Homo sapiens: one gene and its partner. The protein of the gene in region 2 interacts with the protein of the main gene of each other region in a pairwise test. Each region holds a gene or a part of one and is shown on either strand. Other genes may lie near its edges.

Region 1 (4,078 bases), on a different chromosome or scaffold from region 2:
GAGGAGTCCCTGCCCACATCCCTCCTCAGGTGCTAGCTGGGTAGGCTGTGTCAGATCCCCTCTATAAGCCTTCCCTCCCAGAGCCCCAACCCCACTTCACACCTCCCTGGTCCACCCTACTCACCCTCCTGCTGTCACTGTCCCCTCACCTTGCCCAGTTCTTCTCCTTGTATTTCTCATTATCTGAACTCATATTTAAGTTGTCTGTCTATCCCATTAAGCCTCACAGTGGTGTCTTGTTCACCACCATATCTCAAGAGCATGAAACCATGCCTGGCACACAAGCAGTGAAGACAAGCAGTGGATATTTGTTGAACACATGGGTGAATTCTGGCATTCTAAGTCTTCAGTGGGACCATCTACCTGTCAATCCCAGTGGAACTGGTGCAATGAAGTGGAAAAGGGGTCTCCTGGGATCCCACTCCCACCCCAGGTGCTGGGGTATGGACTGCCCACCTCTGGGTCCCAAAGACCCCCACAGCTGAAAAACTGGACTCAAGGGAGCAGATAGAGTAATGTACTAACATTTTTAATACAGTCTGATCAGATCAATTCACATCACAAGGTCAACCTGGGCTTGCTCACATGTGACACAACTGAGGTACACAATGTCCCTACCTGCCGGCTGTCCCACCTTCCTGGTTCCCAACAGCATTGAAACCCCCTACTTCCCTGACCAGACTGGCATTTTTTAAAATTTTGCATAAAACTATTTCTTCCATAGACTTCAAACAATCAACTAGCCAAGTTAATTATGGTACATCTAAACAAAGTTTAATACTAACCCTAATGTGTGACTGCGGTTTACAAAGAGCTCTGTATCACCTGGGATAGCTTTCAGTAGCAATTCACTACAACTGGTCCTAAAAAATAATAACAATAATAATAATAATTAGAGAATTAAAACCCAACAGCATGTTGAATGGTTAAAATCACGTAAGAACTGAAATTTGGGGTGGGGGTGTCCTCAACAGCTGAGCTTGTCCTAGCAGTGAAAATGCTCGCCTCCAAGCAGGGCTCAGAAAGGTCTGGAGCCCTCCAGGCAGAGGGCTGAGCTCAGGGGGCTCTTGGAGGACACTCACCCCATGGTCCATGGGATGCTTCTGGCTTCCTTAAAAACAGTTGGGCATCCGCATTGTATAAGTAGGTGGAGACCCTAGTGTGGTTCTTTTGAAGGATATGGGAAGGGAGGATGACGAACTAGAGAAGTGGGAGGGGACCAAAATCACTGAGGTCCCAGAATATCATAGATTTGGGTATAGGATTGGGGTCACTAAGAATTGAGCACCAGGAATTCCAGCTTCTTCCCATTAAAGAAACTGGGACTGGTTTTGCCTTGGAGGCCTATGTAGTGTTTTCTGCCCCTGTCCCATACCAAGTCTCATTGATATTTCTGCAGAATATCAGATGAAAATCTATTTCTAAAGACCATTGGGAGAATGGGTGGTGGAGAAGGAGTTGGAGTGGGGTTGGGGGGCAGTTAAAAATGAATAAAAATCTCTCAGCTACAGAACCCAAACATCACTTCCCTCCGCATTCACAGCATTTCCCAGCAGTCCCCAGATGGTTGTTTCCGTGGGGACACAGCAGCTGCCTCATTTCCCTTCAGGCCCCATGGGCTGCTGGTCAACCTCAGGATCTACTAAAGATGACGCAAATGCCGACTGAACAATCTGAAACCCAAAGGACTCGAGGAGAGACATGTTCTGCTGAGGAGAGAAAGGTGAGCCAAGGGCAGGGCCCAGGTCCCCCAGGGGGCCCCCGAGAGCCCGGACATGCACCTTCTGGATGTGTTTGTTCAAGTAGGACTTAGAGCGGAAGAAGCTCCCACATTCAGGGCATGGGTACTTCTTCTCCCCATCAGACTCCATTTTGTTTTTGGGGACTGCCATGTCGCAGGAGAAAGAGCCATTGGCACTCTGCTTCTCTGGCGTCTTCAGGTCGCTGGCATCTGAGAGGTCACCATAGGAGTCAGAGCTCTCAATCGGATCCTGATGTGAGCATTTCTGGCCTTCTACGAAAAAACAAAATATAGGAGAGCGATGAGGCCAGGCTCTGGAGATGCCCCCTCCTGGAGGGGTCATGAGGGGCCAGCTCACAGACCTGTGGAGGGCAGCCATTGGCCAGCCACTGCCCTGGCAGAACCCACGGAGGGTCAGCTGGTCAGTCTGGGAGCCTGGAGTGCCTACAGGGGTGAAACGGCAGGGCCCTAGGGCTGCCAGCCTCCCTTGCTGTGGACTCTTCATGCAGCTGCACATGTACTGCTCACCGTCATCTCAGCCTGCTTCAAGGAAGGGATACAGAGAGGGCAACTCTGCTACAGCTGCCCAGAACAACTCAAAGACCCCCAACTCCTAGGCGCTCTTTTGGGTGCCTCTGAGGGTAAAATTGGTATTCTGATGATGCCGAGCCAGTGTAATAGTAGCCTCGCCTCCTGCACCAGACTAGCTGCACCCTAGCAAGACAGGCAGAACCAGAGCCATTAGGTCCTCAACCTGGGTAGACCCCATCAATGGCTCAGACAGAAGCCAATCCTTTTCCTAATGCTGCAAACATAGCCCTGTCCTTACCGCCTTCCTTCTGCCAAAACCTTTTCAGGGCCAAGCAGCCCAAGCACAGAGATTGAAAGCAACTCTGTACTACTCAGTCGGCTGGGTGTCCCCACCCTAGGCCCCAGACAAGCTGGGCCAAGAGACAACCCTGGCTGCTCTGCCTTGCCCGGCCCACACTGGAGTCCTCCACCAATCAGCAGCTTCCTGCCTGGGTCCAGAGAGCCATGCCGGGAAGGGAGGTCTGTGATGGGAGCATGGAGCATGCCATCTCTGCTGTTTCTACCATCTGCCAAGCCCCTGGCCTCATCCCCAAGGCAACGACAACGTGACATACCACAAAACAACCTGAATCAACAAGTGAAGGTGGGCCTGGGGAGCTTTCTGCAAACCAACTCCCAAGTCAGAGGAGTCAGATAGCTCATTATTGCCATGCATCTCACAACCATAGCCAGAGGCTCTCCAGAAAGGGCCACTCACAGTAACCAACCACTCCTACTGTGAGAGAAGCCAGACATTGGCTCCCACCGGCCCACTGGGTCAAAAGAGGAGAAAGCATTCAGCCGCAGCTCCACACCATCCTAAAGGGCAGCAGGCAGTGACAGGCCCATAGTGACTCATCATGCAGGGCTCTTCTTCTGCCCAGGGCCCGGGGCATCCCTGCAGGGCTCCAGACAGTGGGGGCTGGCCAGGAGGAAAGGAGGAGGGCTGGGGAAGAGGAGGCGGAGGCTGGATCTCGGCAGTGCCCTAAAGCCTCACTCACTGCCCTGGAGTGAGATACCCACTGTGACTTTTGTCCTGGAGGCCACTGCCACTCAGATCTCTGAGTCTCCTCAAGGCAGCCAGAAAGCCGGCAGCCTTCCCGCCTCCCCACGCCCAGCCCAGCGCCCCCACAACACAGTCTGCGCAGAGAAGCAAAGTGCAGAGCAAGGGGTCGCTTGCCTTTGTTGCCATAGGTCCTGGCGCAGTGGAACGCTGCTCCCCCATTCAGGATGGGCTCCTGGTGCCTGGAGACCTGGGGAAGGGGAACACCGTGGTGGGTTTTAACATGGACCTTTAAGTAGGAGGCAGAGGAGAAACCTAAACAAGACAAAAGGAGATGAGATCCCGCGGCCAGCAAGAGATACCTCTCTCCTTCCCCCAACTCCTCTCCTCTGGCCGCTCTGGCTAGCATTCCCAGGTCAGCTGCACCTAGAAGGGGCCCCCTCCTGGCTCAAAAATGGCTGCAACCACATGAGCCATGTGACTCAGGATGGAGGGTGGCACTGTCCACAAATCGGCTTCTCTGCAGAGCCCACTCTGCAAGGCTGCGGTGAGGGGCTGAGGCTGGCTGCCTGGTGGGATGGCCTGAGATCCTGCTCCTGCTAGGGCCAGAGGCCAACTGCCTCTAGGGTTGCTTGGTGCCTCAGTAACAGGTGGTTTGAGTGGATGTCTCCTGCAGGAACCATGACTAGAAATGTGGTTAGACAAGAATTTGAGGCTCCAGGGAAGCCACAGGATTCTAGCCAGCAGGATGCCTGCTTAATCCT
Region 2 (7,035 bases):
CCAGCCTCACACCTAGGTGCCCTCCCACAGAATCCAGGAGTCTTTAAAGACCCTGACCCTTGGCGGAGTGCGGTGGTTCACGCCTGTAATCCTAGCACTTTGGGAAGCTGAAGAAGGAGGATCACTTGAGGCCAGGAGCTGCAGACCAGCCTGGACAACACAGCAAGACCTCATCTCTACAAAAAATAGAAAAATTAGCCAGGCGTGGTGGTGCGCACCTGTAGTCCCAGCTGCTTGGGAGGCTGAGGCAGGAGGTTCATTTGAGCCTAGGAGTTCACGGCTGCAGTGGGCCATGACCACACCACTGCACTCCAGCATGGGTGACAGAGTGACACTCTATCTCAAAATTAATAAATAAATAAATAAGATGCTGGCCCTCTTCTGCGAGCCCCACCAAGAGTGCCTTATTCAGTTGTATGTCTTGTGCACCGCACAACACCACGTCTCAGGGTGTACCATTCACACCATACACCTTCCAGAACTGTACATTTCTCATGACAATTTTCCCACCAGTGTCTGAGAAAGAGACTCCTTTTCCAGTTCTTCAAAGCAACTGCCTTGGCTACCTGCCCTCCATTCAACACATTAAATTGCATCCCGACCCACACAGACTGTACTTTATCTACAAGCACAGGAGTTGGCAGCATTAATCAGTGGACTAGCTAATATTGCAATACTGCACCACAATATTGAGCTGTTCCCATCATATTTGGGGGAAAATAAAAGACATTTTCTAAAATGAAACCTTTTTATGTGTCTTTAAGGAGTTTGTAACGATAATGAATGTTAAACATTTTATGTGCTGATAACAGGGCAAAACCACCTAGTTTGCTCGTCCAAAAAATGATGAAGACAAAACCAAAGCTCTAGATTAAGAGTGATTTGAAAAGACGTAACATCATAATATGTGTGCTTATTTGGATCTTGATTTTTTTTAATGAAAAAAATTATCATTTTACAGCCAAAAGGAAATTTGAATACAGCCAGGATATTTGGTATTACAAGAAAATCTTTAATTTTTTAAAGACAGAGCAATGATACTGAGGTTTAAAAAGTTCTTTTTTTTCGAAGGGCACAGGGGCTCATGCCTGTAATCCCAGCACTTTGGGAGGCCAAGGAGGGCGGATCACTTGAGGTCAAGAGTTCGAGACCAGCCTGGCCAACATGGTGAAACCGTCTCTACTAAAAATACAAAAATTAGCCAGGCGTGGTGGCACATGCCTATAATCCCAGCTACTTGGGAGGCTGAGACACAGGAATAGCTTGAACCCGGGAGGCAGAGGTTGCAGTGAGCCAAAATCACACCATTGCAATCCAGCCTGGGCAACAGAGTGAGACTCCGTCTCAAAAAAAAAAAGCTATGTTTTTTGTTTGTTTTTTGAGACAGGGTCTCGCTCTGTTGCCCAGGCTGGAGTGCAGTGGTGTGACCAAGGCTCACTGTAGCCTCAACCTACTGGGCTCGAGTGATCCTCCCACCTTAGCCTCCCCAAGCACTGGGATTACAGGGAAAGAGTTCTTATCTTTTATTATTGTTGTTGTTGTTGTTGAGAGACAGGGTCTTGCTCTGTCACCCAGGCTGGAGTGTGGTGGCAAAATCATGGCTCACTGCAGCCTTGACCTCCCCAGGTTCAGGTGATCCTCCCACCTCAGCCTCCTGAGTACCTGGGACCACAGGCATGTGCCATCAAGCCCAGCTAATTTTTGTATTTTTTTTAGAGATGGGGTCTCCCTATGTTGCCCAGGTTGGTCTCGAATTCCTGAGCTCGAGCAGTCCGCCCACCTGAGCCTCCCAAAGTGCTTGGATTACAGGCATGAGCCACCGCACCCAGCCATCTTTCTTATTTTTAAAAAACTTATTATTATTACTAAAAATACAAAAATTAGTGGGGTGTGATAGCACATGCCTATAGTCCCAGCTACTCGGGAGGCTGAGGCAGGAGAATCACTTGAACCTGGGAGGTTGCAGTGAACCAAGACTGTGCCACTGCACTCCAACCTGGGCGACAGAGCGAGACTCCATCTCAAAAAAAAAAAAAAAATTATTTGTCCTTTTTTCAGAGAAATACTCCCTGATTTCTGAGTTCTCCCAGAACCCTACCACACAGTTAATTCTTCCTCTTCATCATTTCTTGCTCAACTTAAATGTAATTTCCTCAGAATGACCTTCATTGTGAGCCCCGCATCCAATATAAAGCCAATCTTTTTATTGTCTAAGAGCTCCTTCTACATTCCCAAGGCAGCTCTCATCCCAATTTGTAATTATGTTCAGTTCTTTGTTTACTTATCATCTCCTCTCTTTTCCATTAAATTTTAATGTCTAAAAGTACAAGAAAGTGGTCTTTTCTTATTAAAACATTATAGGTAGCTGGGCACAGCAGCTCACGCCTGTAATCCCAGCACTTGGGAGGCCAAGGCTGGGGGATCACTTGGGCCCAGGAGTTCGAGACCAGCCTGGGCAACATAGTGAGACCCCCCCTCTCTACAAAAAATATAAAACAATTAGCCGGGTGAGGTGGCTCATGCCTGTAGTCCCAGCTACTTAGGAGGCTGAGGTGGAAGGAATGTTTGAGGTCAGGAAGTCGAGGCTGCAGTGATTCGTGATCGCACCACAGCACTCCAGCCTGGGTGACAAAGCCAGACTCTGTCTCTAAAAAACAAACAAACAAAAAGCAACTTTATGCCCCATCACTAGCACACTGGTAGCTACATCATATGTGTCCAAAATTCTGAGTGAAGAAACGAATGAATTACCAAAGTATCAATTTCACCTTCTCTGTATTGCCCAAATGATCACTTAGCTCTACTTTGCAACCATTAAGAGCCTAGATTACCATCATTCATTTCCTAACCCCGCTAATAATGCCTTATCTTGTCTCTACTCAGTCATGCCCGTCCTTCTTACAGTCCATCCCCACCATCTAGCTAATTCTGCTAAACACCATTATTCTTTAAAGATACACAAATATTTTTGAAAAAAATACATGTTGGAATTTGCTTAAAAATCACATGAAAGTGAGAGGCCACGCACAGTGGCTCACGCCTGTAATCCCAGCACTTTGGGAGGCCGAGGCGGGTGGATCACGAGGTCAGGAGATCGAGACCATCCTGGCTAACACGGTGAAACTGCGTCTCTACTAAAAATGCAAAAATTTAGCCGGGCGTGGTGGCGGGTGCCTATAGTCCCAGCTACTCAGGAGGCTGAGGCAGGAGAATGGTGTGAACCCGGGAGGCGGAGCTTACAGTGAGCCGAGATCGCACCACTGCACTCCAGCCTGGGTGACAGAGCGAGAGCCATCTCAAAAAAAAAAAAAAAATCACTTGAAAGTGAGAGAGTGGATGGGGCAGGACTGGCCATGAGTGGCTGGTTATTGATGTTGGACATATGGAGTTCATTCCACTATTTTCTATATTTTATTGGTGTTCAACATTCTTTAACTAAAAAAACATTTTTCGGCTGGGCGCAGTGGCTTATGCCTGTAATCCCAGCACTTTGGGAGGCCAAGGCGGGCGGCTCACCTGAGGTCAGGAGTTTGAGAGAACAGCCTGGCCAACATAGGGAAACCCCGTCTCCATTAAAAATACAAAAAAATTAGCCAAGCGTGGTGGTGCATGCCTGTAGTCCCAGTTACTCAGGAGGCTGAGGCAGGAGCATGGCTTGAACCCGGGAGGCAGAGGTTGCAGTAAGCCGAGATCATGCCACTGCACTCCAGCCTGGGTGACAGAGTGAGATTCCATCTCAATAAATAAATAAACATTTTTTGTGGATGTTTAATTCTCTCAGCCAGCCTATGAAGGAGCTACTGTCACAGGAAAGGAACAGAACATAATTAAAAGCTAGGTTCTAAAGTCAGACTACCTGGGTTCTAATTCTCTCTCTGACAGTCACAAGCTATAAGATTTTTCAGGCTGGGTGCAGTGGCTCACAACTGTAATCCCAGCACTTTCAGAGGCAGAGGTGGAAGGATTGCTTGAGCTCAGGAGTTTGAGACCAACCTGGCCAACATAGTTAGACCCCACCTTACAAAAAAGTTGCCACGCATGGTGGTGCATGCCTGTGATCACAGCTACTTGGGAGGCTGAGGTGGGAGGATCACTTAAGTGCACAAGGTCAAGGCTGCAATAAGCTGTGATCATGCCACTGCACTCCAGCCTGAGTGACAGAGTGAGACCCTGTCTCAAAGAGATTTTTGAGGCCAGGTGCAGTGGCTCACGCTTGCAATCCCAGCATTTTGGGAAGCCGAGGCAGGAAGATCACCTGAGGTCGGGAGTTCGAGACCAGCCTGACCAACATGGAGAAACCCTGTCTCTACTAAAAATACAAAATTAGCTGGACGTGGTGGTGGGAACCTGTAATCCCAGTTACTCGGGAGGCTGAGGCAGGAGAATCGCTTGAACCCAGGAGGCGGAGGTTGTGGTGAGCCGAGATCACACCATTGCACTCCAGCCTGGGCAACAAGAGCAAAACTCCATCTCAAAAAGAAAAAAAAAAAGATTTTTGATTTCCCATGCCTGTTTCCTTTTCAGTAAAATAGAGAAAATAGAGTACACATGTCAAAGGGTGTTTGTGAGGTTTCAATAAGCTAATCTATGAAACTCAGTGCTTGATGAATGAATAGTAAGTGCTTGATAACATACCCTAAGGTCAGTAATATTATTCCCAGTTAACAACTAGGGGCCAGGCACAGTGGCTCACGCCTGTAATCGCAGCACTTTGGGAGGCCAAGGTGGGAGGATCATTTGAGGTCAGGAGTTTGAGACCAGCCTGGCCAACACAATGAAAGCCCACTTCTACTAAAATACAAAAAAAAAAAAAAAAAAATAGCCAGGCATGGTGGCGTGCGCCTATAGTCCCAGCTACTCAGGAGGCTAAGACAGGAGAATCACTTGAACCTGGGAGGCAGAGTTTGCCATGAGATGAGATTGCACCACTGCACTCTAGCCTGGGCGACAGAGTGAGACCCTGTCTCAAAAACAAAAAAACAAACAAACAAAAAAACCCTGCTGGGCGCGGTGGCTCACGCCTGTAATCACAGCACTTTGGGAGGCCAAGGCAGGTGGATCACCTGAGGTCGGGAGTTCGAGACCAGCAAGACCAATGTGGAGAAAGCCTGTCTCTACTAAAAATACAAAAAAATTAGCCAGGCGTGGTGACTCATGCCTGTAATCCCAGCTACTCAGGAGGCTGAGGCAGGAGAATCACTTGAACCCGGGATGCAGAGGTTGCGGTGAGCCAAGATCACACCATTGCACTCCAGCCAGGGCAACAAGAGCAAAACTCCATCTCAAAACAAACAAAGAAACAAACAAAAAACCCCTAAGGCACAGAGAAGTGAAGTAACATGTTCAAGGGCACGCAGCAAGGAAGAGGCAAAGTCAGCATTTGCCTGGAGCTCCCGGACATCCAAGTGGCCCCATTCCACACAATCTCCCAGGGTCTGACCGCCCACATCCCCGCTCACCTGGCTGGTGTGATTAGCACCCATTTGCAGCAACATGTGGACACAATCCAGCCTGTCTCGGGCCTGTGTGCTCAGCACCCGGGGACAGAGGTCGGAAGGGCGCATAGCAACGTTAAGGGCCAGGATGGCCGTGTGGAGCGGGGTGAGGCCTGCAGAATGGAGACAGTGAGGGACCCGCATCTGCACCCACCTCGCCCAGCCACACCAACCACACCAGCCCTGCCCACACCCAACTTACCCTCGAAGTCTCTGGCTTCCAGGTCAACCTGGACCCCAGAGTTAAGCACAGCCTGGGAGGAAGAGAAGGCAGACTGCTGGGTAAGGGTATCCCCTGGCCTCCTGGCCCTGGAAGCCAAAATCTGGGCAACCAGTCTACCCCCCAGACAAACCCCTGCCTGCCAGCTGGCCATACCAAGAGAACTCCTGGGAGCCCGTAGGTAGCGGCCACGTGCAAGACCGAACGTCCCTGATGGTCAGCGGCATTGGGCTCTGCTCCCAGGTTCAACAGATCCTCCACAATCAGGGGCTGGTTGGCAGCAGCCGCCACCAGGAGAGGGGTCTGCAGGCCACAGGAGAAGTCAGGTTGGGCTCCTGGTTCCCTCCCGTCAGAAAACCAGGCTCCCAGCCCCATCCCCCCTCAGCCCCAGGAGCTCACCCCCCATTCCCCTCTTCTCTAGGATCCAGGGGTCCAGGCCCCAGGCTCCTTCCTCCCCTGAACCCAGGAGAGTTCAGGCCCCAAGCCTCACCTTGCCCTTATGCTCACGAATGTCAAGACGCCGGTACACCTGGAGCACCTCAGCCGCAGCATATGCCGCCCAGCGCAGCCCCCGAGCCGCAAACAGGTGAAGGAGCCTGAGGACAGGTGGGGGACAGCCGTGAGAACAGCCCCCACCAAGCCAAGAGTCTGCAGACAACCCTATCCCTTATACTCACGTGTCCCCCTCCTCATCCTGGGCCAGCAGCTGCTGTGGCCCCAAAGCCAGCATGTGAGCTCGGGCCACCTCCAGCGATGGTCCAGGGACCACAGCGGGGAACTGTGGGGGTCCTGAAGGGGGTGCAGAAACTCTCCAGGGTCCAGCCTGTGGCAGAGAAGATCCTACATAGAACTGGGTGTCTGGGGGGTCCTGGAGGGTGCAGGTGGTGGGGAGACCCAGTCAGCTGAGAATTCCTCCATCCCAAGCCACCACACACACATCTGCATGCAGAGCCCCTGGGTATCCCATCTATGCCAAGTGACCTTGGACCTTTAGGCCTCAGTTTTGCCCACCTGGAAAAGGGTATTTTTTTTTTTCGGTGACAGAGTCTTGCTCTGTCACCCAGGCTGGAGTGCAGCAGTGCAATCTCTACTCACTGCAATCTCTACCTCCTGGGTTCAAGCAATTCCCCTGCCTCAGCCTCCCGAGTAGCTAGGATTACAGGCGTGCGCCACTACACCCAGCTAATTTTTTTATTTTTGGTTTCACCATGTTGGCCAAGCTGGTCTCAAACGCCTGACCTCAAGTGATCCGCCTGCCTCAGCCTCCCAAAGTGCTGGGATTACAGGTGTGAGCCACCACGCCCGGCCTGGAAAAGGGAA

The links. The genes of interacting proteins can lie anywhere in the genome.
Region 1: the proteins of NFKBID (region 2) and PATZ1 interact in binary tests that used the Homo sapiens proteins (3 or more experiments, as listed by UniProt).

The regions. Positions count from the first base shown.
Region 1 is NC_000022.11:31,325,296-31,329,373, forward strand, and holds the end of PATZ1 (POZ-, AT hook-, and zinc finger-containing protein 1 isoform long C), read right to left. Parts: intron 3,630-4,078; coding exon 3,492-3,629; intron 2,015-3,491; coding exon 1,596-2,014; 3' UTR 509-1,595; downstream 1-508. UniProt on the Homo sapiens protein: Transcriptional regulator that plays a role in many biological processes such as embryogenesis, senescence, T-cell development or neurogenesis. Interacts with the TP53 protein to control genes that are important in proliferation and in the DNA-damage response.
Region 2 is NC_000019.10:35,890,521-35,897,555, forward strand, and holds part of NFKBID (NF-kappa-B inhibitor delta), read right to left. Parts: intron 6,584-7,035; coding exon of another isoform or gene 6,539-6,583; coding exon 6,393-6,538; intron 6,312-6,392; coding exon 6,206-6,311; intron 6,019-6,205; coding exon 5,872-6,018; intron 5,750-5,871; coding exon 5,698-5,749; intron 5,609-5,697; coding exon 5,460-5,608; intron 2,648-5,459; coding exon of another isoform or gene 2,540-2,647; exon of another isoform or gene 2,183-2,539; intron 1-2,182. UniProt on the Homo sapiens protein: Regulates the expression of IL-2, IL-6, and other cytokines through regulation on NF-kappa-B activity. Functions in the regulation of inflammatory responses.